Homo sapiens: one gene and its partners. The protein of the gene in region 3 purifies or fractionates together with the protein of the main gene of each other region. This does not show direct contact. Each region holds a gene or a part of one and is shown on either strand. Other genes may lie near its edges. The genes, in order: ZMYM4, ZMYM2, ZSCAN5A and OBSL1.

Region 1 (7,402 bases), on a different chromosome or scaffold from region 3:
TTCTTCCTTTTGAATGGGAATGTCTATCTTAACAGCTGTCTCATCCTCTCATCATTGTATTTTGGAAGCAGATAAGTTGTTTTCCAGTTTCACAGGTCCACAGATGGAGAATTTTATCCCAAATGAATCATGCCGAGTCCATACTCTTACCTAATTTAGATGATTTAAGACAATGAGATTTCAAACTTTTTGAGGTTATAATATTTGGAGATTTTGGACTTAAGAGTTCATGCTGTAGCTGGGCATGGTGGCTCATGCCTGTAATCCCAGCACTTTGGGAGGCCGAGGCGGGCAGATCACGAGGTCAGGAGATGGAGCCCATCCTAACATAGTGAAACCCCGTCTCCACTAAAAATACAAAAAATTAGCCAGGCATGGCGGCACGCTCCTGTAGTCCCAGCTACTTGGGAGACTGAGGCAGGAAAATGGCTTGAACCCAGGAGGCAGAGGTTGCAGTGAGCCAAGATTCTGCCACTACACTCCAGCCTGGGCGAGAGAGTGAAATTCCATCTAAAAAAAAAAAAAAAAAACAGAGTTCATGCTGTAATAGGTCGAGACTTTTGAGGATGTTGGGATGAGGTGAATTTATTTTGCATATGGGATGTAAATGAAGTTTTAGGGGTCAAAAAAAGAACTGTAGTGTATTAAACTGTGGCTCCCAAAAGTTATGTCCACCCAGAACCACAGTATGTGAGCAGACTAGATCTTTGGAGAGGTAATTATGGTAAGGATCTTGAGCTGAGAACATCCAGGAATAAGGTAGACCCTAAGAGACAGAAAAGAAGATGCAGAAAGAAGACCAAGGGAAGATGAAGGCAAAGACAGGAGTTTTGCCGCCACAAGTCAAGGAATACCAACCAAGCCACAAGAAGATAGAAGAGACAAGCAAAGATTCTTCCCTAGAGCCTTGATTTTGGACTTCTAGCCTCCAAAACTGTGAGATAATTTCTGATGTTTTAAGCTACCAAGTATGTAGCAGTTTTTTGGCAGCCTTAGGAAACTAATTTAAGAGACCGCCAATCATCAAAGATACAACAAATTGAACACCAAAAATAATGACTATGATAAATTAGAATGTATCACATATGGTAAAACTCATGAGTTCCTAATGATACTCCCTCCCAAACCTCACCTTTGGGAGTTGTGAGGGCGGGCATCAATTCATTTTTCTGAAAATTACTGATAAAGGGGAAAAAAATAAGCATTTATCCTGCTTTTTCTTTACAAACCGTATTACAAGGTAACCAAATAATTGATGAGGGAATTCTTTATGAAAGAATTCCAGTTAATAAATACAAAAGAAATGACCAAAAAAAATCACTCTTCTAATGAAATAATGGATATAGGCAAGAATTATCATTAAGTGAAAAGTTAAAAATAAATTACATTTGGATCCCACTGACAGAACCTAAACCAAATGATCCATTTAGTATCACTAAAAGTAGAACCACCACTTAAGTTACCTCCTAGAACGATCCAACAAGAATTCACAGCCCCATCTAATGGAATGACTATAAATCCTAATTTGTCTAGAACAATTCCAGTTTAAACTATTCCTTCTGTGTAATCATTATAGCACCCCCTTTCATTCTCAAAATTGTCTGATTGCAAATAAATTATATAACCACTCTTTATAAATATTTCTTGCCAAAGAAACTGAACCTAAACTCATCAAGCTCTACCAACTAGGGCTCTCAATCTTGGCTACAGACTGAAATCACTTGGTAAATTTTTTAAAATATTGATGATGACATTTTACCTCATGGGCTCTGATTAATTTATCGGAGATGTGGCCTAGGGATCAGGATAACTAAAAGCTCTCCAGATAATTCTAAAGTTTTAGCCAAAGTTCAGAACCACTGCTCTGTATTTAACTACTAATTTGTGGGAAATATGAGGGGTAAAGGAACATGTTAAATACCATAACAAGGATTCAATCAGCCAAATCCAAAATGTGGAAAATTATCCTGGAACAATAACCTATTTTTTTCAACAAATAAATAGCATGGGAAAGGAGCACAGGGGGTATGAGTTAAGAAAGGGGATTATTGGCTGGGTGCAGTGGCTCATGCCTATAATCCCAGCACTTTGGGAGGCGGAGGCGGGTGGATCACTTGAAATCAGGAGCTTGAGACCAGCTTGGCCAACATGGCAAAACCCTGTCGCTACTAAAAACACAAAATAAGCCAAGGCTGGTGGTGCATGCCTATAATCCCAGCTACTCGGGAGGCTGAAGCAGGAAAATCGCTTGAACCCAGGAGACGGACGATGCAGTGAGCCAAGATCACGCCACTGCACTCCAGCCTGGGCAACAAGGGCAAAACTCCATTTCAAAAAGAAAAAAAAAGGTGGGGGGAGGTGATTAAGGTTAAGAAAAACTTAAGAAACATATAAACTAAATGAAATGTGTAACTCTTAGTTGGATGATTTAAACAAATCAGTGTAAAAAGACACTTAAAGAATAAGAGAAGTCTGAACACAGACTGGATTAAGGAACTCTTTTGTTAGGTCGTAACAGTATTGTGGTTGTGCTTGTTAAAAATTCTTATCTGTTAGAAATACACACGGAAGTATTTATAGATTAAATGATGTGATGTGTGTTATTTCTTTGAAATTATTTCAACTATGGAAAAAAAGGAAGGAAGGAGGAAGGAAAGGAAAGGAGGGAAGAAAGAAGGGAGGGAGGGAGGGAAGGAGGGAGGGAGGGAGGGACAGAAATGAGTAGTTAGATGAGACAGGAATAGTAGATTAATTTTTGGCTTATAAATGTATAATATGCATGTCAGTATTAAAATACATTTGTAAGACATATTGGGAAGTGTAAAGAAAGAAAAACACATATGATTCTTGATATGTGCTGGGTTCTCAAAGAACTGACAGTGCTGGGTTCTATACGCTGGATAGACCAAAACAAAACAAAAAAAAGGACTATCTTTGGTCAAAGGCAGCTAATTAAAGCTTCTAGGAGGCCAGAAAGATGATATGAATGAAATTAAAATAACAATATAAATATTTCCTAAGTACAAGAAAGTGGGTATAGGTATGAGAAGGTTGGATAAGAACTATTACTACCCCAAAATTGCTAAATTCCAGAGATTATACCATAAACTGACTTTGAAAAACCCATGCTCCTGCTAATGGCTAAGCCACATAAAAGTGTCATTTTTTTTTAAGTCAAATGGTCAAGTATTAGCAATTTTGTTGGGTTGAATACAGTACATTTATACAATACTTGCCTTTCTCCTTTGCTAAAGTAAGTACATACAGTTAGCTCATAGTAAAATAATCAGAATTTTTAAGGGAAATATCACTTTTCTTTAAATAGTGGCTGTTCTCCTAATACAGAATTCAAAAATACCTCTTAAGTATCCATAGAAACTGAAATTTTATATTTATCTACTTACATATTCTTTAGTAAGAAAACCTTTCTGGCAAGGCACAGTGGCTCACGCCTGTAATCCCAGCACTTTGGGAGGCTGAGGCGGGCAGATCATGAGGTCAGGAGTTCAAGACCAGCCTGGCCAACATGGTGAAACCCTGTCTAAAAATTAGCTGGGCATTGTGGTGCACGCCTGTAATCCTAGCTACTCGGGGGACTGAGGCAGGAGAATTGCTTGAACCCAGGAGGTGGAGGTTGTAGTGAGCTGAGATGGCACCACTGTACTCCAGCCTAGGCGACAGAGCAAGACTCTGTCTCAAAAAAAAAGAAAAGAAAAAAGAAAATCTTTCCATTGTCAAAAAAAGTACAAACATAATCTTTAAAGTAAATCACAGCTTCAAAATATTTAGTGTATATTTTCTAAAAAATAAATGTGAGCTGTGAATACATATTTTAAGATGATCTCAAACAAAAATGTATTTCTTAGGGAACAAGTTAACTTAATGATTCCTAAGAAGTAACTTACATCAACTTTGTTTGAATGTAATTCAAATTATTCTAACATCCATACATTCCAGATAAAGAATTATGTGCTTTATTTTACAAATGAGAATATAAACACTAACCATAATATTTCTGGATAAACAAAAGTTCTAACCTATATGATCGAACAGGACCAGTTCAAGTAATAATTGATCCTGATTTAGCCATCATATCTCCAGCAAATCTCTCTGTGCCTTAATTTCCTAATTTATAAAATGGGACAATAATTGTGGTTGAAAAATACATCACATGTAAAATACTTAGAAAAATGACTGGCACTTAAGGGTTTATAATACCAAGTATTATCATTATTTATAGATGTCTCTGCTTATTACAAGATGGGAAGAACCAGCGTGTGAAAACAACTCAGAATCATTCTCAGTATTAGAATGGCCTCTCCTTTTTTTTTTTTTTTTTTAAAAAAAAAAACAGTGTCTCTCTTGCTCTGTCACCCAGGCTAAAGTGCAGTGGCACAATCATAGTTCAATGCAATCTCGAAATCCTAGGCTCAAGCAATCCTCCAAGCAATCCTCCCACCTCAGCCTCATGAGTAGACGAGGCTACTAAACCTCGGGTAATTTTTTTAATTTATTGTAGAGATGGGGTCTTGCTATGTTGTCCAGGATGGTCTCAAACTCCTGGCCTCATGCCATCCTCCTGCCTCGGCCTCCCAAAGTGCTAGGATTACAAGCATGAACCACTGTACCCAGCCACAAGTATTATTATTTACAGATCCCTCTGTGTGTTACAAGATGGGAAGCAGTGTGAAAACAATGCAGAATCACTGTATTTGAATGGCCTCTTCAAATGGTCTCTAAACAAAGAGTCAATACTTTCTAAAAGCAAATTATTCACATTGCATACATATAAACCGCAAATATTGTAATGATATGTACCGCCATGTTTTTAAGTAATACATTTAGCAAAAAGACAGAAAAGAGAAAAAGTTAATTAAGGAATTAAGAGGGATCAATCTTTTGCAATTATTTTATTATAAAATATTAAAATAACAGAAATTCAAAATAAAACTTCTCCATATCCCATCACATCATGAAGTCAATGCTTTCATTTGTTCGTATTTTCTACTGTCTATATGTGTGTTCAATTTTCACAGATTTATATATTAATAGATAACATTTTATAGTCTACATTTTCACTTAGCATTATACCATGAATACTTTTTCCACTTTGTGAAATTTGCACCCTTATACTCTCTTTCGTTTCTCCTCCCTACCCACTGAAGGTAATCAGTGGTAATATCCCAAACTGTGTCCTCCACAATTTTCTCTAAGTTCATACATGTACAAGCATATACAGACACAAATGTGGGGAGGCAAGAAAGGTCGTTTTGTTTTGTTTTTCACAAAAAATGGAAGCATACTACTTATACATATGCTTTCTCTCTTTTTTAAGCATACCAGGTATATACATCTCAAATTTAATACACACAGAATTTTAAGTATGAAAATGAATACAATTTACTAGACCGGGTAATATTTACATTTACAAAAGTTATTATTTTGTATGTAAACTTTGAAAAGACAAGGATTTTACAACAAAATATGGCCGCCCGATTTAGTTAGACCTCATACTTCATAACATACTGGTTATTATAATAGCCATGCATAAATAATTCAATCATTTATAATAAGCCTACCTAATGAGTCTTAAAAGCTATTTGAGAAAACAAAAATTTTATCATCTAAAAAAATTAAATAATATGCCAACTTTAAAGTGTGTGTGTGTGTATGTATTTGTGTGGGTGTGATGCTTGCTGTAACGCCTTCATGTATAGGCACTAGGATATGAACTTAATTCTCTCTATACTAGAGATGATAGATGAATATAGCGCTGATCCACCCACATACTCAGCTCCCCCGTGTTCACAAATTGAGAGACTAGCATTCCAGCATATTCTGAATACAAGTGTTCCGACTGCCCACAAATATAAAAACAAGACATCAGGCAGGCCTACCTAGAATTTAAGGTTGTTAACCCAATGGTCTTAAAATGCAGTCACCGGCTGGGCGTGGTGGCTCACGCCTGTAATCCTAGCACTTTGGGAGGCCGAGGCGGGTGGATCACGAGGTCAGGAGATCGAGACCATCCTGGCTAACATGGTGAAACCCCGTCTCTACTAAAAATACAGAAACAAAAAATTAGCCGGGCATGGTGGTGGGAGCCTGTAGTCCCAGCTACTCGGGAGGCTGAGGCGAAGGAATGGCGTGAACCCGGGAGGCGGAGCTTGCAGTGAGCTGAGATAGCGCCACTGCACTCCAGCATGGGCGACAGAGCAAGACTCCATCTCAAAAACAACAACAAAAAATGCAGTCACCTGCCCATCTAACCATAATCCAGAACAATCAGAAGATCCCTAAATCTGGATCCATAGGAGAGAACTCTGGGGAGTAAAGGACGCTATGAAAGATTTACAGAGCCCCTCAAAATTACAAAGCAGAGAACTTGGTACTCAACCCATAGAGCCTCTGCTGTACTAGGTAAGCTATTCTTACAAAAATAAGTCAGCAAGTCTTTTGAGTTCCTACTGTGTAGAGGTCACAAGATGTCCAGACGCAAAAAGCAATGAAATAGATACTATGTTAAAGGAGTTCACAATTTATCAAGAGAGCCAGCATATATTATCCTAAATGACCCTAAGTAACAAAGCACAATGCCTAGCATGTAGCTTATGAAATAGCACAGGTGCTTAGCAACTTTTTTGTGACATGATTACAAAGGTCAAAAGCAGTAAGCATCATTAAGTACAATACCATGTCATCAATGCAATTTCAGATTGAATAGCCTAAAGTTACTATCTAAGTCTATGTGGATAGTTTGTTTCAACTCCCTCAAGGCAGTCAATTTCCAAAGACATGGTACTGCATAGTCCCCATTAATCGGCTTGGAGTATACATATGGAATCCACATGTAATTTGGCACACACCAAAAAAAAGTGGAAAAAAGTACTTATATCATTTAAGACAATCATACCGAACATTCTAATGAAATATCAAAAACAAAATGAATTATGGATCAAAAAATATTATTTATGTATTATTTTTACTTTTTCTAGAGAGGGGGTTTCCCTCTGTCACCCAGGCTGGAGAGCAGTGGCAATATCATAGCTCACTGCAACCTCCAACTCCTGGGCTCAAGCAATGCTCCCACCTCAACCTCTGAATAGCGAGGACTAGAAGCATGTGCCACCACACCATTAATTCCAAAAATCAATGAATGTAATTTTCCTCTGTGATGAAACTGGCAAAATAATGGGGGAAACCTATACAAGTCCTGCGTATGTTATAGGTTGTTAAAAATAAAATTAACTTTTGGGCCAGGCCCGGTAGCTCACACCTGTAATCCCAGCACTTTGGGAAGCCGAGGTGTGCTGATCACCAGAGGTCAGGAGTTCGAGATCAGCCTGGCCAACATGGCAAAATCCCATCTTTACTAAAAATACAAAAATTAGCCAGGCATGGT
Region 2 (7,402 bases), on a different chromosome or scaffold from region 3:
TCTTTTTTAAAGCCTACATTATTTCATTACTTTATACAAGCCATCTCTCAACAAAGGCAAATTACAATTGACCCTTGAGCAACATGGGTTTGAACTGCAGGGGTCCACTTGGACACGTATGTTTTTCTGTGTGCCTGCCTCTCCAACCTCCTTCTACCTCTTCCAATCGTGCCACCTGAGACAGCAAGATCAACCTCTCTCCTCTTCCTCCTCAGCCTACTCAACTTGAAGACAATGAGGATGATCTATTTCCACCTAATGAATCGTAAATATATTTTCTCTCCCATATGATTCTCTTGATAACATTTTCTCTAGCTAACTTTATTATAAAAATACAGTATGTAGCATATAAAATATGTGTTAATCAACTGTTATCAGCAAGGCTTCCAGTCAACAGTAGGCTACTAGTAGTTAGCTTTTTAGGGAGTCAAAAGTAATACATGAATTTTTGACTGTGCAGGGGGGCTCAGTGAAGAGTAGGCTACTAGTACTTAACTTTTTAGGGAGTCAAAAGTTATACACAAATTTGTGACTGTGCAGGGGGGATCAGAGCCCAACCACTGCATTGTACAACGGTCATCTGTAATTACAAATATAGTTATCTGTTTAATCTGTCATAAAAATATAGTTATTTGTTTAATGTGTCATGAAATTAGAAAAGAAAAAATGAAATATAGGTATTTGCTTTGAACTGACTGGTATTCCTGAATCTGACAACAGTCAATTAATATTCCAGGAAATGTGATGTTTCTACATAAATCACTTTGTGCAACAAAATCATATTAAATTCTGTGGTGAGAGTCACCAATGATGAGAAAATAAATATAAGACAATAAACTAATAATCTAAATATTACTGTAACAGAAACTGAAGAACTTTTCAACAACTCCACCTTATAGAGAGTGACACTTAAGTACTTTTCACTTTTTTATTTTATTGTTTTATTTTTGTTTTTTTAAGACAGGGCCTTGCTCTGTCACCCATGCTAGAGTTTTGTAATCACGGTATCTCCCCTGCCAGGTAAGTATCCATGCTGGAGTTCTGTTTTGAGGAGAGGTCTTGCTCTGTTGCCCAAGCTGGAGTGCAGTGGCACGATCATAGCTCACTGCAGCCTCGATCCTCCTCCTGGGTAGCTGGGACTGCAGGCACGTGCCACCATGCCTGGCTGGTTTTTATTTTTTAGTTTTTGTAGAGGTCTCACTATGTTGCCCAGGCTGGTCTCAAACTCTTGGGCTCCACCAATCTTCCCGCCTCAGCCTTCCTGAGTGCTGTAAGTGCTGGGATTACAGGTGCCACTGTGCCTGGCCCCCTTTTCACTTTCCTGATGGCACTGTTTGCAATGCAAAAGTTTTTAATTTTGATGTAGTCCAGTTTATTTATTTATTTTTCCTTTTCTTCCCTGTGCGTTTGGTATCTTACCTAAGAAACTGCCTAACATAAGGCCATTAAGATTTAGGCCTATGTTTTCTTCTAAGAGTTTTATATTGTTAGCTCTTACATTTAGGTCTATGGCTCATTTTGAGTTAATTGTTGTGTTTGGTGTCAAGCAGAAGTCCACCTTCATTCCACTCCAAGTATTCTCTCCCTTTTCCGGTTTTTTTTCTTTCTTTTGGGGACAATTTGTGAAAGCTATCTTTCTTAAGGTATTTTTAAAACCTGCTTTATGTTGGAAGTCAGAAACACAGAAAGTTGACAGAATATTATAACAATTACACTTGTTAATGCATGTAGATTTGGTCTACCTGAATGATCAAACTGTCCAGCATGTCTTTCTATGTGTGTTGGTATGCCTAAAAGAGACCAGAAATAATAAACTGTGTACTTCAACCCCACTGATCATCTCATCAGAAATAATCGTGGAAAAAACAGCTCCCTAGAAAACAGTCTAAATTTTTGTCAAATAATTGAACTTACTACTTTAGCAACTGTTTTCTATTTTGACCTTGTATCAATACAAGTTTAGTTGAGGTATCAACTAAATCTGAGATATTTTTATTACTTAGAAACAGTAATAAATTATTACTAGAAATAAATTATTACTACTATTATTACTAGAAATAGTAATAATTACTATTTCTATACAAATAGAAATAGTAATAAATAATAGTAATAAATAGCAGTAATATATTATTACTATATTCTATATAAATAGAAAATAAATTATTTTCCAACCTAGAAAACAAAATATGTTCCCATATTCTCAGGCACACTAAAAGAACACTGTATCCTTGTTTGCCTATAGAGAAATATTGTTATATAGGCTATTAAGTGAATGTACCTTTTTTTTAGATCGAGGTCTGGGCTGTTCCTCATATTCTTCGCCAAAAACAGGTGGTAATAAAAATTCATTTTCCATATCAAGCTCCTCAGCAGCTGACAACCAAATCAGAACTTTTATTTTAAATGAAATAGCACAGGGTTACATAAACACAGCCAACAAAGAACTAACCACAGGATGTAAACCAGCATTCATACATGGGGACAATCTAGGCTGGGCTGGGGAGTAAATGACTCATTGTACCTAACATGGTTTGTGAATTCTGACAAACACTGTTCAAACTCCTAAAAACATATATAAAATGAATATCAACATAAAATTTTCATGAAAATGTATGATACCAGAAAAATTATTATAGTCTGAAATCCAATTACAAGATCTAAATGGTCTTGGTACAAATCTGATTCAATCTATTAAATGTTTTTTCCAAAAACTAATGTTTTACATTCTACTCAGTGTGCTCATTAGCCATCCATGGATTAAGAAAATAATGAAAAATGGGGCACACTTATTTTACAAAAGACCTGAAAATAATTTTTCCTTTGAAGGTGAACTTAATTTTCAAAGGATCTTAAAAAAAAGCTAACTATATATATTATATATATAAAAACTATATAATATATATAAAATATATATTATATATAAAATTATATTTATATTATATATTGTATATATTTATATATTATATACATCATGATGTATATAATATATAAAATTATATTTATGTATTATATATATTATATATTTTTTATATATATATATTTTTTGAGACAGAGTTTTGCTCTTGTTGCCTAGGTTGGAGTGCAATGGTGCAGTCTTGGCTCACTGCAACCTCCGCCTCCTGAGTTCAAGCAATTCTGCCTCAGCCTCCCCAGTAGCTGGGATTACAGGCACTCACCACCACGCCCAGCTAATTTTTGTATTTTCAGTAGAGACGGGGTTTCACGACGTTGGCCAGGCTGGTCTCAAACTCCTGACCTCAGGTGATCCACCCACCTCGGCCTCCCAAAGTGCTGGGATTACAGGCATAAGCCACCGCACCCAGATGCTAACAACATTTTTAAATTAAAAAGGACACAAACACTTCTTTAAACTTTCTATAATGAATTACTTCTAGAATTTTTTTTTTTTTTTTTTTTTTTAAAGACAGGGTCTCACTCTGCTGCCCAAGCTGGAGTGCAGTAGCACAATCTCGGCTCACTGCAACCTCTACCTCCTGGGCTCAAGCAATCCTCCTGCCTCAGCCTCCCGAGTAGCTGGGATTACAGGCATGCACCACCACGCCTGGCTAATTTTTATATTTTTAGTAGAGACAGTGTTTCACCACATTGCCCAGGCTGGTCTTGAACTCCTGGACTCAAGTGATCTCATTCCAGAAGTTAACTGTTAAGGTGGGTTTTTAAAAAAAAACAACAACAAAATATGAAGTTAACTCTTAAGGTGAGTTTAAAAAATAACAAGAATAAAAAATATGAACACTGCTAAAAGGCAATGACACAAACATCAAATGGTAAATGATCATAACCACAGTTGACTCCATAACTAAATTCCATAGTCATAAAGGTTTTGAGTACCTCTGGGAAAATCTATTTCGATATCCAAATCTGGTTCATATGGTACATCAGGCATGCTGGACTGTGTCTCTGGGTCAGAGTTCTTCAAAAGGTCTGAACCAATTATATCTGTTTCAATAATTACACCTGAAATCAATCCATATTATCATTAGGAATCAAAACAGAAAACCCCAATGGTATCTGTATTTAATCTGGCAAAAGCAAGTCATTTAATTTTAAATGCAATATAAAAAAATACGTATAATGTCACAAAAGAAAAGGGCATATTATATATATAACTATCTCAAAATGTAAACCACTATAAACCTCATAATTAGTCACAAGCACATGAAAACTTTTAATCCTATAAATTTTACAGGAGGACTCCCTTCAAAAGCTAATAGGTATGCTTTGATAGTAAAACAACTTCAACAAGTAAAGTATTTCTAAAAGCAACTTTTTGTCAAAAATAAACTAATGAGGGTAGACAACTGTAGTTTTCAATACTCTTTGAATTTTGACCCAGGTTTCTCAGATTGTTCAATATATGCATATTAACAACTGCCTTTTAATGGTTCGATCAGTTGCTTTCAAGTGTTTTTGTGTTGTAATCATGGCAAGAAATGCATTTTATCCAGCACATACTGCAAGGTGATGGTGGGGAACAGAAAGACATCTGTATACACACTGGTTTCACAAAATAATACTTACCCTTTCTATGAGGGATTCACACTGTCATTTCTCTTACCCTATTCCACTTAGCTTTTTCTTTTCTTAAACAAAAACACTGGTTGCAACCCACTAATTTCACAACTCCTTACCACAGTGCTTCAAAAACACTGTCTCATTATTAAATCCAGAGAAAATTATAGTATTTTGATTGTCCTCTAGGGTAAGGGTAAGAATTAGCTCAAGGTTGAAATAGGACTTTGGGTATCAAGAGAGGGTTAAGGGTGGAAAATAAATATTCTAAGTGACTTAGAACCATCCACAACACACTCATCACGTTATACCATGTAGCGCAAGCACTGCCCTAACAGAGGTTAAGATAAACTCTGGTTTAGATAATGCAAATTATTTTATTAGTATAAGCAATAAAAGAAAACTAGGGGCTGGGTGTGGTAGCTCACACCTGTAATACCAGCACTTTGGGAAGCAGGTGGATCACCTGAGGTCAGGAGTTTGAGATCAGCCTGGCCAACATAGGGAAGCCCTGTCTCTACTAAAAAGACAAAAATTGGCTGGGCGTGGTGGCACGTGCCTGTAATTCCAGCTACTCAGGAGGCTGAGGCAGAAGCATAGCTTGAACCCAGGAGGCAGAGATCTCAGTGAACCGGGATCATGCTACTACACTCCACCCTGGGCAACAGAGCAAGAGTTCATCTAAAAAAAAAAACAAAACAAAACAAAAAACTAGGGATAACTATTACAAAATAAGAGTTTTGATCATCATTAGAGTCTACTACAAGTTATTATAGTTTTGCATCAGCACTACTCCATTAACAAGAATAATTTTGAGTTGATTTTACAAGTCAAATCCTGCTTAAAACAGAGACCAAAGACCAAATTCCTGCTTCGGATATCTGTCTGAGGGCACCTGGCTAAATACAGTGTAGATCTCTTAATATAAAAAACATTTTTGTTACAATGCTTTCCTCACCCCCACATAAGTTGAAACAAAATGATATGCCCTGGAAAGTACTGTAACAATACTTATAAATAACCAATGTTAACACTTATTCGCAAGGTATAATTTAGTGTAGCTCACTGTTGATGTTGGTTGTCTCTGTTTTCCCCTCGTCTTCACTCATCATATCCGTCATTGTAAGCAACTCTGTATCAAGAGCATCTGAAGAAACCTTGCTTTTTAGCTCCTCAATTGCTGCAGGAATCTTCTCACTGCTGTCCAATGGAGCAGGCAGAAAAACAGGAACTGGCACCTAATTAACCAAATCATTTTGAGTTAGGTTTACTAAACATTAAAAGGTATTTTTCCAAATTAAAAATTACTCTGACACATGATCTACTTTGTAATATCACACTGGATAAAAGCTTTGAAAAGAACACATACAAAACTAAGATGTTAACTGTGATAAGAAAGCCTAGAATACAAGCATCTACTTTTTGGAATTCAAATTAAAGAAAAAGAATTTTTGAAGTATTTCTGTCCCCCAGGGGACTATAATAGCCAAGCCCTGACACAGTGTTCTTCTAAGTACTGCAAGTGATTTGGGATAAAATAATATTTTATATGAAATTCTATGTTTCAGTTCTAAACCTTATGGCTTCACAAATATTTTTCTTTTTTTTTTTTGAGATGGAATTTCACTCTTGTTGCCCAGGCTGGAGTGCAATGGCGCTATCTCAGTTCACTGCAACCTCCGCCTCCCGGGTTCAAGCGATTCTCCTGCCTCAGCCTCCCCAGCAGCTGGGATTACAGGCATGTGCCACCATGCCCAACTAATTTTGTATTTTTAGTAGAGAGGGGGTTTCACCATGTTGGCCAGTCTGGTCTTGAACTCCTGACCTCAGGTGATCTGCCCATGTCAGCCTCCTAAAGTGCTGGGATTACAGGCGTGAGCCACTGCACATGGCCCACAAATATTCCTTTTGAAAATGAACCCAAATATAAACTTAATATGCACAGAGCAGGCACAGACATCCGCGAAATGTCACTCTCGAGGATGAACATATACATACTATACACAAAGCAATCAATCATGACAACAGAGATTCAACCAAATCTAAGTTAACTGTCGAAGAAAGGTAAAGATGGTTTTATTAGCTTCATTAAACTAGTAACTGCAACTAGAGTTATCCTCAGTATTCTAGGGGATTGGTTCCAGGACCACCTGTGGATGGATACCAAAGTCTATGCATACTCAAGTTCCACACCCCTACAGTCAGCCTTCTACACAGATTTCACATCCTCAAATAATTTTTTATTTTCATTTTTTTTGAGATAAGGACTTGCTTTGTAGACCAGGCTGCAGTGCAGTGGTGCAATCACGGCTCATTGCAGCCTCCATCTCCCAAGCTCAAGCAATCTTCCTACCTCAGCCTCCCAAGTAGCTGGGATTACAGGTATATGCCACTGTGCCTGGCTAATTTTTACATTTTTAGTAGAGACAGGGTGTCACCATGTTGCCCAGGCTGGTCTTGAACTCCTGGGCTGAAGATACGCCTACCTTAGCCTCCCAAAGTGCTGGGATTACAGGCAGAATACTGTATTTTCAGTCTGTGTTTGGTCACGGATGTGGAACCTGCCAATATAGAGGGCCGCCCATATTTATTGGGGAAAAAAAAAAATCATCCACATATGTGGATGCATGGAGTTCAAACTCTTGTTGTTCAAGGGTCAACTGTACACTGTTTTCCCAACTGTGTCTGCTAAATCTCAAAATGAGAAAGAACTTAAAATGTGACTTACAGGAACAGGAACTGTAGTAGGAACAGGAATATTCTGACTGTACATGTGCATAGGAACTGGGATATACACAGGCACAGGGATAGGCACTGGAACATATTCTGTCCTCCAAGTATCATCTAAAAACACAAAACATATTTAAGG
Region 3 (7,402 bases):
GATTTTTATTGGATAACACTGCCCTAGATAATAACAATACATTAATTGAGAACTATGTGCCAGGCAGTGTGTTTTAGAAATATTATCTTATTTAGAACACGTGAACACATAGGGGTGAACAACACGCACTGGGGCCTGTCGGGGTATGGGATTGTGGGGAGGGAGAGCATTGGAAAAATAGCTAATGCCTGCTGGGCTGAATACCTAGGTGATGGATTGATAGGGGCAGCAAACTACCATGGCACACATTTACCTGTGTAACAAAACTGCACAGCCTGCACATGTATCGTGGAACTTAAAAATATATATATATTATCTCATTTAAACTTTACCTCTATGAGGCAAACTCAGTAGACTGTTTCTTAAACTCCACTTTAAAATGATCCCTGGGGTAAAAGAATTTTCCATCCGTCTATGAAATATACCAACTGATGCTTCAGGCTCACTGAATGCCCCTGGCTAGTGCAGTGCTTTCTAATATGCCTTCATTCTTCTCTATTGGTTCAGTTGTGTGACTACCCAGAGCTAGTTGAGTTGCATTTATTCTAAACCTTTTCATTCTAATGGATTTTATTTCAATTATGTAATGCAATTACATTTAACATAAATGAGGAAAATATGAGTGCATCAGCAAAGAATTGTTTCCACCCAAAACAGTAATTCAGTGGGAAAGATGTGATAAAGGCCGATTGTTAATAAGAGCAACAACAAAAAATATGTCAAGTTGGAATGAGCAAGATGGCTATAGGGATGATCTTTTTCTTTTTTTTAATGCAGTGAGGATTTTGCTTAAATAGCTTTGCAAGCATGCCTGTGTCTCCGCTGCCCTTTTAAGGGACAAACTGGAAATTGTAGGTCCATAGACCTATACAACAACAACAACGAAACCCCCTGGTCTTATATCAAAAGATTAGCAAATGCCTGTACAATTTTATGTTTTAAAACAAAATGGTAAAAGTATTTTTAATTACCTATTGGAACCAACTTATTTGATGAACCAACCAGTGATGGTTCTGATCATGATGATAAGAGAACTTCTACCCTACTGTTACTATCCCCATTTTACAGATGATAAAATAAGGCATTAAGAGACAATACCTTCCCCAAGCCTGCATATCTATTAAGGGGTGGAGCTGGGATTCGAACCCAAGAAACCTGTCTCCAGAGCCAAAGCTTTCAACCAGGACAAGGAACCTCCTCCAGAATAGGCAAGAAACATGCAGGCTGGAGAGCTGGATACGGCTTCCTCCTGGAACAGCCATATCCTCACAACTGTATTTCCTCAGGACGGTGGGGGCAGCCCCAAATCTTTACACAAAAGAATACGGACTTTGGAATGAGTCCAACTGGGTCAAATCTCAGCTGTGTAGCTTAGTGTGATGTTGGACGAGCCATCGGTCTCTCTGAGCTGTAGTGTCTTCACCTGTAAAGTGCACAGTTAACTGATAGCGTTTGATTCTTGGTAATCCACCAGCATACCTGTTAGTTTTCAGTGTTGGGCGAATGGAATAACCCAGCCTTTTCAGCCATTTCAACAAGTATACATTTTATTATGGAAGTAGTGGGGAAAGTTCGAGAACGATCTGGAGGAGAGATTTTAGGGGAAACTCCTGCAGTTGCTCTCTCAGCCGCCCTGGGTGCATCCCCCTAAGGCATGGCCCCCACAGACACCTTCTGGCCATGCCTCTGGGCACCCAGGTGCCATTCCTTAAAGGACCCAGTTCATTACCCTCCACACAGGCAGTCCAGGGGACAGAGAGCTTTCTTCAGAGGTTAGAATGCCTGGGAGATGGAGGCCTTGTGAAGGCTAAGCTGAGATGGAGCAGGCTCACTAGAAAGAACAGCAGGGATCATCCCTAAGAAAGGAGAGAGAAATGTATTTGTGCATTGATTTTCGTCTTCATGCATTCTCATACTCCTTGCCTGGTGCCCTCTCCATCCACCTCTACAGGGCTCTTTGTGACCTGCCTCAAGCCCACCTCCTCCCTCCAGCTTAGCCCATTCTCCCCACTCACTAGGTTCCACCAAGTTTGTCCCTATTCCCACCGGGCTGTTCCAGCAGCTGGAACACGCTTCCCTCAGATCTTATGGACCCTAGCTCTGCCCCATCACCAGGGCAAGTGTCTCCTCCTCAGAGCAGGGCTCTTCTAGAAACCAGCCAGTGGGAAGCAGCGCCCCCTCCAGTTCCTCACTGTCCCGGCGCCGGGCCTGAGCTTGTGTTGCACCCCTACCTCCCACTAGAGGGCGCGCCCCGCAGGAGCAGGGACTGCCCAGGCCTGGCTGGGCTGCACCCCCTAGCCTGGTGTGCTGGAGTCACTCAGAGTTGCAGGAAGAGAACCTTAAGGTTTGCTTCTGGGTGCTGGAGTTCCAGGGATGGATCAGGGGTACTTCCTGCTCCCACAGGGGCTCACAGTCTATGTGAGCAGGGGCCCTCAAACTGTGTTCCGCAGGGCCAACTGCAGCCTGCATCCCTTTTAATAAAGTTTCTTTTTGTAATTGAGGTAAAATGCAAACATAATGCATAACATAAAATTCACCATTTTAACCATTTTGAAAGGGCACAATTTAGTGGCCTTCATTACATTCGCCATGTTGTGCAATTGTCACTTCTAAGAGTGGAACATTTTCATCAACCCAAAAAAGAAATCCATTAAAAGCAGTCACTCCCCTTGTTCCTTCCTCCCCTCAGCCCCTGACAACTAGTAATTGGCCTTCTGTCTCTTTGAATTTGCCAGATCTGTCTGTTTCATATACATGGCATCATCTACTGTGTGATCTTTTGTGTCTGCTTCTTTCACTCAGCACAGTGTTTTCAAGGTTCAGCCGTGTTGTTGCACGTGCCAGGACCCCATTCCTCTTTTGGGGGCTGAATAATAATCCATTGTATGAATGCACTACGTTTTGTTTATCCTTTCATCAGTTGTTGGGTACAGTCACAGCCATCAGTGTATTCTCTACGATTGCTTTGACTAGAGTAGTTGCAACAGACCATATGACCTGAAAAGCCAACACGTAATATTTGGCCCTTCACAGAGAAAGTTTGCCAACCTCTTGCCTAATGGGTTGAAAGCACACCTTTATATGAAAATAACTATCTGGTTTGACCGGTGCTTTAATGTATGGTTGAAGAGAGCCTGAGAAACCGTTCAACACCATTCATTTCCTTCAGCATCCTCCCCAGTGGAATCTGAAGGATTGCTGTTGGTTCCTGAACCAAAGCATTGCTTAGGTGAATCTTGAGGACTGAGGAGGACTTTTCTAGGTAGACAGAGATCAAGGAATCAATGTGTGCAATGGCATAATGGAGCGGGAAAAAAAATGTGATGTTTTGGGGGGAATCAGAAATGATTTAATATGGGGGGGCGTGGTGGCTCATGCCTGTAATCCCAGCACTTTGGGAGGCCGAGGTGGGTGGGTCACCTGAGGTCAGGAGTTCGAGACCAGCCTGGACAACATGGTGAAACTTCATCTCTACTAAAAATACAAAAATTAGCCAGGTGTGGTGGTGCATGCCTGTAATCCCAGCTACTTGGGAGTCTGAGGCAGGAGAATCGTTTGAACCTGGGAGGCAGAGGTTGCAGTGAGCTGAGATTGGGCCACTGTTCTCCAGCCTGGGTGACAGAGTGAGCCTCCATCTCAAAAAAAAAAGACTGGGAGCCACCGCTCACGCCTGTAATCCCAGCACTTTGGGAGGCCGAGGCGGGCGGATCACAAGGTCAAGAGATCGAGACCATCCTGGCCAACATGGTGAAACCCCGTCTCTACTAAAAGTACAAAACTTAGCTGGGCGTGGTGGCACTCGCCTGTAGTCCCAGCTACTTGGGAGGCTGAGGCAGGAGAATTGCTTGAACCCGGGAGGCGGAGGTTGCAGTGAGCCAAGATTGCGCCACTGCGCTCCAGCCTGGCGACAGAGCGAGACCCTGTCTCAAAAAAAAAGGTTTAATATGGACAGGGGATGGAATGTGGGTGGGGGGATCAAGAGAAGTGGAGAAAAGTTTAGAGAAGCAGGAGGAGCTTGGAGCCTGAGAACCCTTGGGTACCATGCCAGAGACCTGAACTTGATCAATGGGGCAGAGGCTTCCTGCCAGGTTCCCTGAAAACTTGGGATCTTTTAGGAATTCCACAAAGGTTTGCTTTGATTTTCATTTCAAAAATTAAACTATTTTTTAAAATAGGTGTGTACCCAAAATATAGCACATGGACTGAAATTTTTATTCACTGGAGAGCCACACCAACCTGTTGCATGTTTTACATACAGACCTTGGGGAAAAAATTGTATTACCTGAAGGGCATGTACACTTCACAAGGCAAACTATTAGGCATTTGCAGTGACTTATCTCTGTGGGCTCAGATTTTTCTCCGTATGAACAATTAAAAGGAAACACTGCAAGATACGGGGTAAAAGAGAGTAACGTAAGACAGCAGAGGCCTTCTGTACCCTGTGCTTGCAAATCTCATCACCTCACTTCATAATAAGTAAATGTCACACAGTTAACCTTAGGAAAAGTACCTCTGGTAATGAAAAGCAACTTAGAATTTTTTATATATTGGGATTCCATGTAAGATTTCAGTAGAAAAGTGTTTTGGATTTTCTTTCTTTTAAAGTTTGAAAGACACTCATCATAGTTGGTGAGTTTCCACTGGTGGATTTAAGCAGGACTGCAGCAGGGGGTGGGGGTATATCGTATGATCGAGTTGACATTTTTTAATGTAAAAAGGGCACTGGGGATGCCAGGGAGAGGATGAAAGGCAGGCGACGTGGGAGAGGCCAGGGAGGAGCCTCTTTGTAGCTATCAAGGGAAGAGAAATCTCCCATCTGTCCTTAGTACTTTCTCTGGCGACGTGGGAGAGGCCAGGGAGGAGCCTCTTTGTAGCTATCAAGGGAAGAGAAATCTCCCATCTGTCCTTAGTACTTTCTCTGGCAACAGGGGAGAGGCCGGGGGGGACCCTCTTTGCAGATACCGAGGGAAGAGAAGTCTCCCATCTGTCCTTAGTACTTTCTCTGGCGACGTGGGAGAGGCCAGGGAGGAGCCTCTTTGTAGCTATCAAGGGAAGAGAAGTCTCCCATCTGTCCTTAGTACTTTCTCTGGCGACGTGGGAGAGGCCAGGGAGGAGCCTCTTTGTAGCTATCAAGGGAAGAGAAATCTCCCATCTGTCCTTAGTACTTTCTCTGGCGACGTGGGAGAAGCCAGGGAGGAGCCTCTTTGTAGCTATCAAGGGAAGAGAAATCTCCCATCTGTCCTTAGTACTTTCTCTGGCAACAGGGGAGAGGCCGGGGGGGACCCTCTTTGCAGATACCGAGGGAAGAGAAGTCTCCCATCTGTCCTTAGTACTTTCTCTGGCGACGTGGGAGAGGCCAGGGAGGAGCCTCTTTGTAGCTATCAAGGGAAGAGAAATCTCCCATCTGTCCTTAGTACTTTCTCTGGCGACGTGGGAGAAGCCAGGGAGGAGCCTCTTTGTAGCTATCAAGGGAAGAGAAATCTCCCATCTGTCCTTAGTACTTTCTCTGGCAACAGGGGAGAGGCCGGGGGGGACCCTCTTTGCAGATACCGAGGGAAGAGAAGTCTCCCATCTGTCCTTAGTACTTTCTCTGGCGACGTGGGAGAGGCCAGGGAGGAGCCTCTTTGTAGCTATCAAGGGAAGAGAAATCTCCCATCTGTCCTTAGTACTTTCTCTGGCGATGCGGGAGAGGCCAGGGGGACCCTCTTTGCAGCTATCGAGGGAAGAGAAACCTCCCATCTGTCTTTCGTACTTTCTCTCCGTACCCTGGACCCTAGCCTTGACCAGGCTACCGTCATCTCGTGGAAACTGAGTAGCCTCTTAACTGGCCTCTACACTTCATGTCACTGGGACGTGTCTCTTTCTCACTGACAGCCTTTCCGTGGCTTCCCATGGCTCTGAAGGTTGGGTCTAAAATGCTTGCTCTAATCTTCCAGGTCTGAGGTGGTCTGCTGAGCATGTCACCCACACTCCTCCCATAGTGCCCTCCCACTCCCTCCCCCTTCTCCTGCCCCCATTTTTCTTTCTGACTCCAGGCACATCTAGGCCACTTTCCACCCCAGGGCCTTCGTACAAGCCAGTTCCTTCACCTGGAGGCTCTTTCACTTGTTTTCTGTGTATCTGACAACCCCTCATTCTACAGGCCTTTGATTCATTGTCACTTTCCTAAAGAGGCTTTCCTTCATCACCCAACTATCCAGGGCAAGGTTCTTTAGTTCTCTTTTTCATCATATCCTCAGCTTTTCCTCTAGCTCTAAGTATCACCTGTAATCATCTAATTGTTTTCTTGTGAGCTCAGGAATCTTGTCTGCCCCGTTCACTACTGCATCCAGGATGCATCAGTGGGTCGTTATAAACACAGAATTATCATATGACCTAGCAATTCCACTCCTAGTTTGTACCCCAAAAGATTTTAAAACAGATATTCTAACATAACTTGTTCATAGCACCACGACTCACAACAGTCAAAAGGTGGGAGCAACCCAGTGCACTTTACCTGATGATGGATAAACAAAGTGTGCTATGTCCATGCCGTGGAGTGTTATCCAGCAGAAACGAATACAGTCCTGATACAAGGTATACCATGATGAACCTTGGAAATATTATGCCAAATGAATAAACCCAGATGCAAAGGGCCACGTAGTGTATGATTCCATGTGTATGAAATGACCAGAGTAGGTGAGTTCTCAGAGACAGAGAGTAGACTAGTGGTTGCCAGGAACAGGGGGAAGAGACGATGTCTTGGTACAGAGTTCCCTTTTAGGATGATGAGAAGATTCTGGAAACAGATTAGTGGTGATGGCCACACAATATTTTGAGTGTACTGAATGTCACTAATGGTTAATTTTATGTCGTGTGTGTTGGGCCACAAGTCCTAAGACTTGTGAAAAAATTATAGAGTGAATTTATAAAGGAGTTCCTCCTGCCCGGCACATCCCTGTCATTTACAATGTGTTTCCTTGCCCCTGTCAGGCAGTGGCTTGCAAGTAAGGGTGACGAACTTGGGACTTCTCATGGAATTCTGGGTTTCTATGATTGCAGCTTCCAAATCCACCTGTGTTCCTTACCTCAAATGCCAGGCAGTTGGGATGAACCTCCCCTAACCCCACCCCAGCGGTGGGAAAAGCCCACTTCCCTGCCATAGCATACCTGATGTCCAGTTCCAAGTTACAGTAGTGGCAGTAACACTTGGGAGGAAAAAGTGAACTGGGAACAGAGAAAGAAACAGTTGGGGTGAGGCGAGTGAATTCCTTCCTTACCTCCCTTTCTCCCCATCCCCCTCTCGCTTCTTTCCCGTCCTCCCCCTCTGCTCTTTCCCTCTGGTTGTAACATCTTCTGGTCTTGCTTCTCTATTCAGCCCGCCTCTCACCACTCCCACCTTCTTCCCCATCTTCCAGCCAGT
Region 4 (7,402 bases), on a different chromosome or scaffold from region 3:
CAAAATCATTAGCCAGGCGTGGTGGCGCCTGCCTGTAATCCCAGCTCTACTTGAGAGGCTGAGGCACCAGAATTGCTTGAACCCAGGAGGTGGAGGTTGCAGTGAGCCGAGATTGCGCGACTGCACTCCAGCCTGGGCAACAGAGCGAGACTCCATCTCAAAAAAAAAAAGAGTTAAAATATTTTAAATTCTACTCAGACCCTTGCAGAATATGTGAAATGACTGGGGCGGGGGGAGCCAGGGAACAGTTTGGAAATCACCAATCTAGGGCCTGGAGGACCCCAGGGAACAGTTTGGAAATCATCAATCTGGTCCAACCCCTTCTCTCCCTTTCCCCATTTTACAAGTAAGGAGACTGAGGCCCAGAAGCATTGAAATGGACTTGCTTAAGGTGATGTGGCTAGTGTCAGGGCTGGATGAGAACTCAGGTCATCTTAGGAACCACCACTTCCCTTCTGGTAGTTTTCTGTGATTCCACAGTGCCCGCTGGCTCTGCATGAAGAGCACACAGCATGAGCTAATGCGCTTCTAGGTATCCTACTCCTAGTCTGGGCCTTCTCCAGAGCCCTCTCTTGTCTCTCTCTCCCCTCTCCACAGAGCCCCGCCTCCGGTTCACACGGCCCCTGCAGGACGTGGAGGGCCGTGAGCACGGGATTGCCGTGCTGGAATGTAAAGTACCCAACTCCCGCATCCCCACGGCCTGGTTCCGTGAGGACCAGCGGCTGCTGCCCTGCCGCAAGTACGAGCAGATCGAAGAGGGCACTGTCCGGCGCCTCATCATCCACAGGCTGAAGGCAGACGATGATGGTATCTACCTGTGCGAGATGCGGGGCCGGGTGCGCACCGTGGCCAACGTCACAGTCAAAGGTCAGCTGGCCCGTGGGGAAGAGGCTGAGGCGGAGGCAGGCAGGTGCTCAGATTCCAGGTTGATGGATTCCTGTCCGCATCTCAGGGCCCATCCTGAAGCGCCTGCCCCGGAAGCTCGACGTCCTGGAAGGAGAGAATGCTGTGCTGCTAGTGGAAACTCTAGAGGCCGGGGTCGAGGGACGCTGGAGCCGTGATGGGGAGGAGCTGCCGGTCATCTGCCAGAGCAGCTCAGGCCACATGCATGCCCTGGTCCTTCCAGGGGTCACCCGAGAGGATGCTGGCGAGGTCACCTTTAGCCTGGGCAACTCCCGTACCACTACGCTTCTCAGAGTAAAATGTGAGGGCAGGAAGGCCTCTGGACAGGCGAGGCAGGGCAGGAGGTTGGCCAGATGCCGGAGCTGGGTTGGTGAAGTAGATTTAAGGTGGAAGGGCTGTGGAGGCCCAAGCAAGGCCGGAACACATCCCTGCCTTGGTCTCAGGTGTCAAGCACAGTCCCCCAGGACCCCCCATATTGGCAGAGATGTTCAAGGGCCACAAGAACACGGTCCTGTTGACCTGGAAGCCTCCCGAGCCAGCTCCCGAGACCCCATTCATCTACCGGCTGGAGCGGCAGGAAGTGGGCTCTGAAGACTGGATTCAGTGCTTCAGCATCGAGAAAGCCGGAGCCGTGGAGGTGCCGGGCGACTGTGTGCCCTCCGAGGGTGACTACCGCTTCCGCATCTGCACAGTCAGCGGACATGGCCGTAGTCCCCACGTGGTGTTCCACGGTTCTGCTCACCTTGGTGAGTTGGTCCTGCCAGACCCACCCATCACTTCTCCTCCCTTCCCCAGCCCTCAGTGCTGGTCCTCTCACAGGCTTGCCATCCGCCAGCCTCTGCCCTCTGCCACACCTTCTAGTTCTGACAGCTGCACTCTGTCCCTGCCTCAGTGCCCACAGCTCGCCTGGTGGCAGGTCTGGAGGATGTGCAGGTATACGACGGGGAAGATGCCGTCTTCTCCCTCGATCTCTCCACCATCATCCAGGGTACCTGGTTCCTTAATGGGGAAGAGCTCAAGAGTAACGAGCCGGAGGGCCAGGTGGAACCTGGGGCCCTGCGGTACCGTATAGAGCAGAAGGGTCTGCAGCACAGACTCATCCTGCATGCCGTCAAGCACCAGGACAGCGGTGCCCTGGTCGGCTTCAGCTGCCCCGGCGTGCAGGACTCAGCTGCCCTCACAATCCAAGGTTGGTGCCAGTGGGGACCTGAGTGGGCAGAAAGGGTCAAGACACAGAAGTCCTGTTGGCAAAACGAGGCAGATGCTGTTTTTATTTCTTGTATCTGGGCCAGGAGAGCAAGGAGCATCCATGATGGGCTGAGGTTGAGGGCTCAGAGGTCCGGAAGGCCAATTTCAACCCACATGCAACATCCAGGGCACCCCTTGTTATCTTGATATATGTCAGCATCATATCCCAATTCTCTGGAGTGCTTTGTGGTTTACAGAATCCTGTCAGATTTGTCATCTCATTTGAAAGACACAGACCCTGGCTGCTAGTCCCTGCCTGCCTCCTGCCATGTTGTCTAATTGTTGACATTGTCATCGCAACTTTCTACGTGCCAGGCGCAGTCCTAATCACCTTACATACATTAACACAATCTTCTCAATGGCCCTATAAGATAGGTTCTTTTTTTTTTTTTGAGATAGAGTCTCACTCTGTCGCCCAGGCTGGAGTGCAATGGCGCGATCTCGGCTCACTGCAACCTCCACCTTGTGGGTTCAAGAGATTCTCCTGCCTCAGCCTCCCGAGTAGCTGGGACTACAGACATGCATCACCATGCCCGGCTTGTTTTTGTATTTTAGTAGAGATGGGGCTTCGCCATGTTGGCCAGGCTTATCTCAAACTTAAGATAGGTTCTTTTGACATTCCCATTTTATAGCTGGGGAAACAGGCAGATACGTTAAGTGACTTGCTCAAAGTACGGAGCTAATGAGCACAGGTGCTGAATTATGAACCCAGGCAGTCGGGCTCCTGATCACACTGTGCCACCTGTTGAAAGGGGGAAGGAGGGGAATGAGGCATCCCTGAGGAGAACAGCTGGAGGTGGGGCGCTCAAAGTTCAAGGATCACGCTAGCATTTGCCATGTCACCATTGCTGGAGTTTGTAAGACCAATCAAGGAATCTGTCGGCACCCATGCACGGGGTCTTGGGGTGATTCACTGTCAGCATCGCAGGCAGAGGGGCCAGGTGAGACCTGACCAGCAACCAGAGCAGCATTTCCAAAATGGGATCCCAGTTCACTGACATCAGAACCACCTGGAGGGCTGGTTTATAATGCAGATTTCCTGGCCCCTGCGTGCTTGGGAATCCAAGAATTCTGCATTTTTAGCAGGCTCCCTAGGAATTCTTATGCACAGCCAAAGCACTGCTCTTAAGGGTTGGTGTGGAAGCCTAAGCCTATTTTTAAAAACCCCAACAACAGCAGTTGTTCCCTCTGATGCATCCGACACTGAGCCCATGCACCGGAGGGAGGGGTGCTTATCTGTACTTCTCCCCACACAGAGAGCCCGGTGCACATCCTGAGCCCCCAGGACAGGGTGTCGTTGACCTTCACAACCTCAGAGCGGGTGGTGCTGACTTGTGAGCTCTCAAGGGTGGACTTCCCGGCAACCTGGTACAAGGATGGGCAGAAGGTGGAGGAGAGCGAGTTGCTGGTGGTGAAGATGGATGGGCGCAAACACCGTCTGATCCTGCCTGAGGCCAAAGTCCAGGACAGTGGCGAGTTTGAGTGCAGGACAGAAGGGGTCTCGGCCTTCTTCGGCGTCACTGTCCAAGGTCAGGAAGCATGCCAGCCTGGGCTCCTCCAGCCAAGGCTGATTGTGGGGCCGCATAAGCCATGCCCTCTGGTCTGCTGCCTACTTGGGGGAGTCCTTTACAGGGAGAGTCCAGTGGCCCAGGGGACATGTTTCAGATAACTCTGCACTTGCTTTTTTGTTTCTTGTTTTTTTTGGAGACAGGCTCTCACTCTGTTGCCCTGGCTGGAGGGCAGTGGCGTGATCTCAGCTCATTGCAACCTCCGCCTCCTGGGTTAAAGCGATTCTCTCACCTCAGCCTCCCAAGTAGCTGGGACTACAGGTGCGCGCCACCACGCCCAGCTAATTTTTTTATTATTTGGTAGAGACGGTTTCACTATGTTGGTTAGGTCACCCCTGACCTCAAATGATCTGCCCGCCTCAGCCTTCTAAAATGCTGGGATTATAGGTATGAGCCACCATGCCTGGCTTTCTTTCTTTCTTTCTTTTTTTAAGATGAGGGTCTCACTGTTGCCCAGGCTGGCCTTGAACTCCTGTGCTCAAACGATCCTCCTTCCTCAGCCTCCTGAGCAGCTGGGATTATAGGTGTGTGCCACGCACAGCGTGCCTTTGCCTCCTAAACCCCTGATACACTAACACTGTCTCGCTGTCCACATAGCCTCTGCTGGGTTGGGTGGGGGAACAAAATGCAATTAAGGGGAGGAGAGATGGGAGCAAACACTTTTTGGACACTTACTCTGAGCCAAGCACTATGCTAAGTATTTTCAATATACACTCTTTCATTTAATCTTCACAACTCGATGAGGGGCAATATATCTCCAGTTCACAGGCAAAGAAATGGAGGCTGTAAGAGGTTATGTGACCTCCGTCACACCATAGCTTGGCGACACACACAGGATTGTTCTGTTCCTGCTGCCTCAGATAGAGTCAAACAGAAGCATCGAGTGCAGTCACCCCGTGGTTCTCACAAGGCAGTCCGTAGGCTGGCTGCTTTAGGAAGCTCCTGGAAGCTGGTTATAAATCCCTGGACTGTCCAGAGCCCCAGTATCCAGGGTGGAGCCTGAAGATCCTTTCCTAACAAGTGCAGACTCTCTGAGAGAGCAGCTTGGGAACCATGGATCCCACTCATCTCACTGAGTGGGAGTCCTGTTTTCCACACTGTGGCCCCTGCCTGAATGCACCCAGTGACAGGGAACCCACTACCTGGAGAGTGGCTGTCTCACTGTTGCCACTTGTTGGATCATCCTTCACCTCCTGCCCACCCTGGGGTCTTTCTCGTAATAGAGGCAGTAAGCATGGCCCTGATGTGACTTGTGACAGTGACCTCCCTTCAGCCTAGACAAATGGTGGCTGCCACTCTGTGAACTCTCTGTGCTTCCTTCTCTCTATGTACTCACCCCGCCACCTCTGATCCTTTGGGGACCTACAGAGCACTCTGGTGCCACATGATCTCCTGCCATGCCTCACCTGCCATGCCCTCAGCATTCCTTGTCATTGTCCCTGAGTCCCTACACAGCAGGACCTTAGCCCTCCTCCAGTGTCCTCTTGTGCAGAAACAGTGTCTCCTGGCCACACAGCTAGTTTGGACTCATTGTGCGGGGGTGTCTGTGCAATGCCATCTCTGCTTCCCACCCAGATCCTCCCGTGCACATCGTGGACCCCCGAGAACATGTGTTCGTGCATGCCATAACTTCCGAGTGTGTCATGCTGGCCTGTGAGGTGGACCGAGAGGACGCCCCTGTGCGTTGGTACAAGGACGGGCAGGAGGTGGAGGAGAGTGACTTCGTGGTGCTGGAGAATGAGGGGCCCCATCGCCGCCTGGTGCTGCCCGCCACCCAGCCCTCAGACGGGGGCGAGTTTCAGTGCGTCGCTGGAGATGAGTGTGCCTACTTCACTGTCACCATCACAGGTGGGGGGCCAGGTGGGCCTCGGAGGCACAGGGGAAGGTGCCCCTGCTCCCACTGGAACAGCTGCCACACCTTCACTCCCAGGCCACTGTTCCCCGCCCCTACTGCCCTCCCCCTGGCAGATCGGACCTCCTCCCTTTCTCCTCAAGCTATGGTCTAGTCACATTCAGGAAACGTGTTATCATAAGCACATTGGTCTTGGCTAAGGAAGCCTGGCTTTCTCTATTCTCCTGAAAACCTGTACCAAGGGAAATCTCTGGGGACAGTGAGTCTATTGCAGGGTAGGGCAGAGTCTAGGGCTGGTGGTCTCAGGCACTAGGGGGGCAAAAACATCTTGGAGGAGGAGACCCCCAGCTCCTCCCCCCAACCCTCCTCTCATCAGTTCCACCCTTCATACCGTCCCTGTCCCAACCCAGAGAATGTGGAGCGTTTCTACAGCCGAGGCTGACCCCGTGGTCCCCTCTGTGCAGCTCCTGCGCAGCAGAAAGTCTGCTGTGCTTTTGTGACAGCTGTATTCGTGTGTCTCTAGCTGTGAGTAACTGTCAGCTGCTGTGAGATTTGGTCTCAGGAAGGTCCCTCTTCAACACATGGCCTACTTTCCAGGGGTAGGGAACACAACGGGGTCAGGGAGGACGGCAGGGCACACCCCTCATGCCCGGCAGTGGCTGTCCCTGTCCTCCAGACGTCTCCTCGTGGATCGTGTATCCCAGCGGCAAGGTGTATGTGGCAGCCGTGCGCCTGGAGCGTGTGGTGCTGACCTGTGAGCTATGCCGGCCCTGGGCAGAGGTGCGCTGGACCAAGGATGGAGAGGAGGTGGTGGAGAGCCCCGCGCTGCTCCTGCAGAAGGAAGACACTGTCCGCCGCCTGGTGCTGCCCGCTGTCCAGCTCGAGGACTCCGGCGAGTACTTGTGTGAAATTGACGATGAGTCGGCCTCCTTCACTGTCACCGTCACAGGTGTGGGCCCAGCCCAGCTCCCCGGGGTCACAGAGACAGCCCTGAGCCCTGGAGGAGCTGGCCACATAGCCCCAGCTAGCACCCCGGGGAGGAGGGAGGTGTGGGCTGCAGGTGCATGTGCCAGGGTTCTTGCTGAGATGAGCCCAGGGCCCCTATTCAAGGAAACAAGCCCCTCCCCGGTGCCCAAGGCCAGGCCTAGCTCTGCTCCACAGCTCATTTACTGAGCACTTTCCCTGAATCAGGCACTGGGAGTAGCAGGTGAGTAATGCAAATACGGTCCCTATTCTGAATGAGCTGCCAGGCTAGGTGAGGAGGCAGCTGTTAACCAGGGGTCGCAAACGGGTAGTCCTGGGGCCCTGCGCATTCCACACATGTGCTTTGTTTGGTCTGCAGAGTCTTACCAAAGTCAGGACAGTTCAAATAACAATCCGGAGTTATGCGTCCTCTTGAAAAAGCCGAAGACCCGGCGGCTCTGGTCCCGCTTCCCCCCATGGCGACGAACAGCTGGCACTGAGTAGCAGCTGCCCCCATAGTTTGGGGCCCACATTCCTCTGTCCCACCTCCCTGCCATTGCTTTTTGCCTCTCCCCAGACTGCTTCAGCCGCTAACCTAACCTGGCCCCTGTGGGCATTTGAGTTTGCGACCCCTGTGTTAAACCAATAAACATGCAAATAAATGTACAGTGACACCTGGTGATAAGTACTGTGAGGGCCAAGGGCAGAGGGCTCAAGAGCACAGAGCAGGAGGGTCAGGGAGGCCTGGGAGAAAGTCACCCTTCCACACACGGGAGCCAGCAGCACGCAGACACGGCCGCTTCCCTCTAGGACTGCACAGCCTGGCAGGAAAGCCAGACGCATTCCAGGATCTTAGAGCATGGGTTGT

Evidence for each region.
Region 1: the proteins of ZSCAN5A (region 3) and ZMYM4 purify together in Homo sapiens (affinity purification with mass spectrometry; 5 studies listed by BioGRID and IntAct, with this or other methods). This does not show direct contact.
Region 2: the proteins of ZSCAN5A (region 3) and ZMYM2 purify together in Homo sapiens (co-immunoprecipitation; 4 studies listed by BioGRID and IntAct, with this or other methods). This does not show direct contact.
Region 4: the proteins of ZSCAN5A (region 3) and OBSL1 purify together in Homo sapiens (co-immunoprecipitation; 3 studies listed by BioGRID and IntAct, with this or other methods). This does not show direct contact.

Annotation. Positions count from the first base shown.
Region 1 is NC_000001.11:35,271,555-35,278,956, reverse strand, and holds part of ZMYM4 (zinc finger MYM-type protein 4), read right to left. Parts: intron 1-7,402. UniProt on the Homo sapiens protein: Plays a role in the regulation of cell morphology and cytoskeletal organization.
Region 2 is NC_000013.11:20,059,422-20,066,823, reverse strand, and holds part of ZMYM2 (zinc finger MYM-type protein 2), read right to left. Parts: intron 7,378-7,402; coding exon 7,262-7,377; intron 5,772-7,261; coding exon 5,600-5,771; intron 3,979-5,599; coding exon 3,853-3,978; intron 2,374-3,852; coding exon 2,279-2,373; intron 1-2,278. UniProt on the Homo sapiens protein: Involved in the negative regulation of transcription.
Region 3 is NC_000019.10:56,304,578-56,311,979, reverse strand, and holds part of ZSCAN5A (zinc finger and SCAN domain-containing protein 5A), read left to right. Parts: intron 1-1,525; exon of another isoform or gene 1,526-1,831; coding exon of another isoform or gene 1,832-1,856; exon of another isoform or gene 1,857-4,620; coding exon of another isoform or gene 4,621-5,739; exon of another isoform or gene 5,740-7,149; coding exon of another isoform or gene 7,150-7,187; exon of another isoform or gene 7,188-7,402. Other genes in the region: uncharacterized protein LOC124900420, read right to left, coding at 4,621-5,739; EDDM13 (epididymal protein 13 precursor), read right to left, coding at 1,832-1,856, 7,150-7,187.
Region 4 is NC_000002.12:219,561,520-219,568,921, reverse strand, and holds part of OBSL1 (obscurin-like protein 1 isoform 1 precursor), read left to right. Parts: intron 1-597; coding exon 598-867; intron 868-952; coding exon 953-1,204; intron 1,205-1,346; coding exon 1,347-1,649; intron 1,650-1,795; coding exon 1,796-2,092; intron 2,093-3,407; coding exon 3,408-3,680; intron 3,681-5,294; coding exon 5,295-5,567; intron 5,568-6,247; coding exon 6,248-6,520; intron 6,521-6,913; coding exon of another isoform or gene 6,914-7,038; exon of another isoform or gene 7,039-7,200; intron 7,201-7,402. UniProt on the Homo sapiens protein: Core component of the 3M complex, a complex required to regulate microtubule dynamics and genome integrity. It is unclear how the 3M complex regulates microtubules, it could act by controlling the level of a microtubule stabilizer.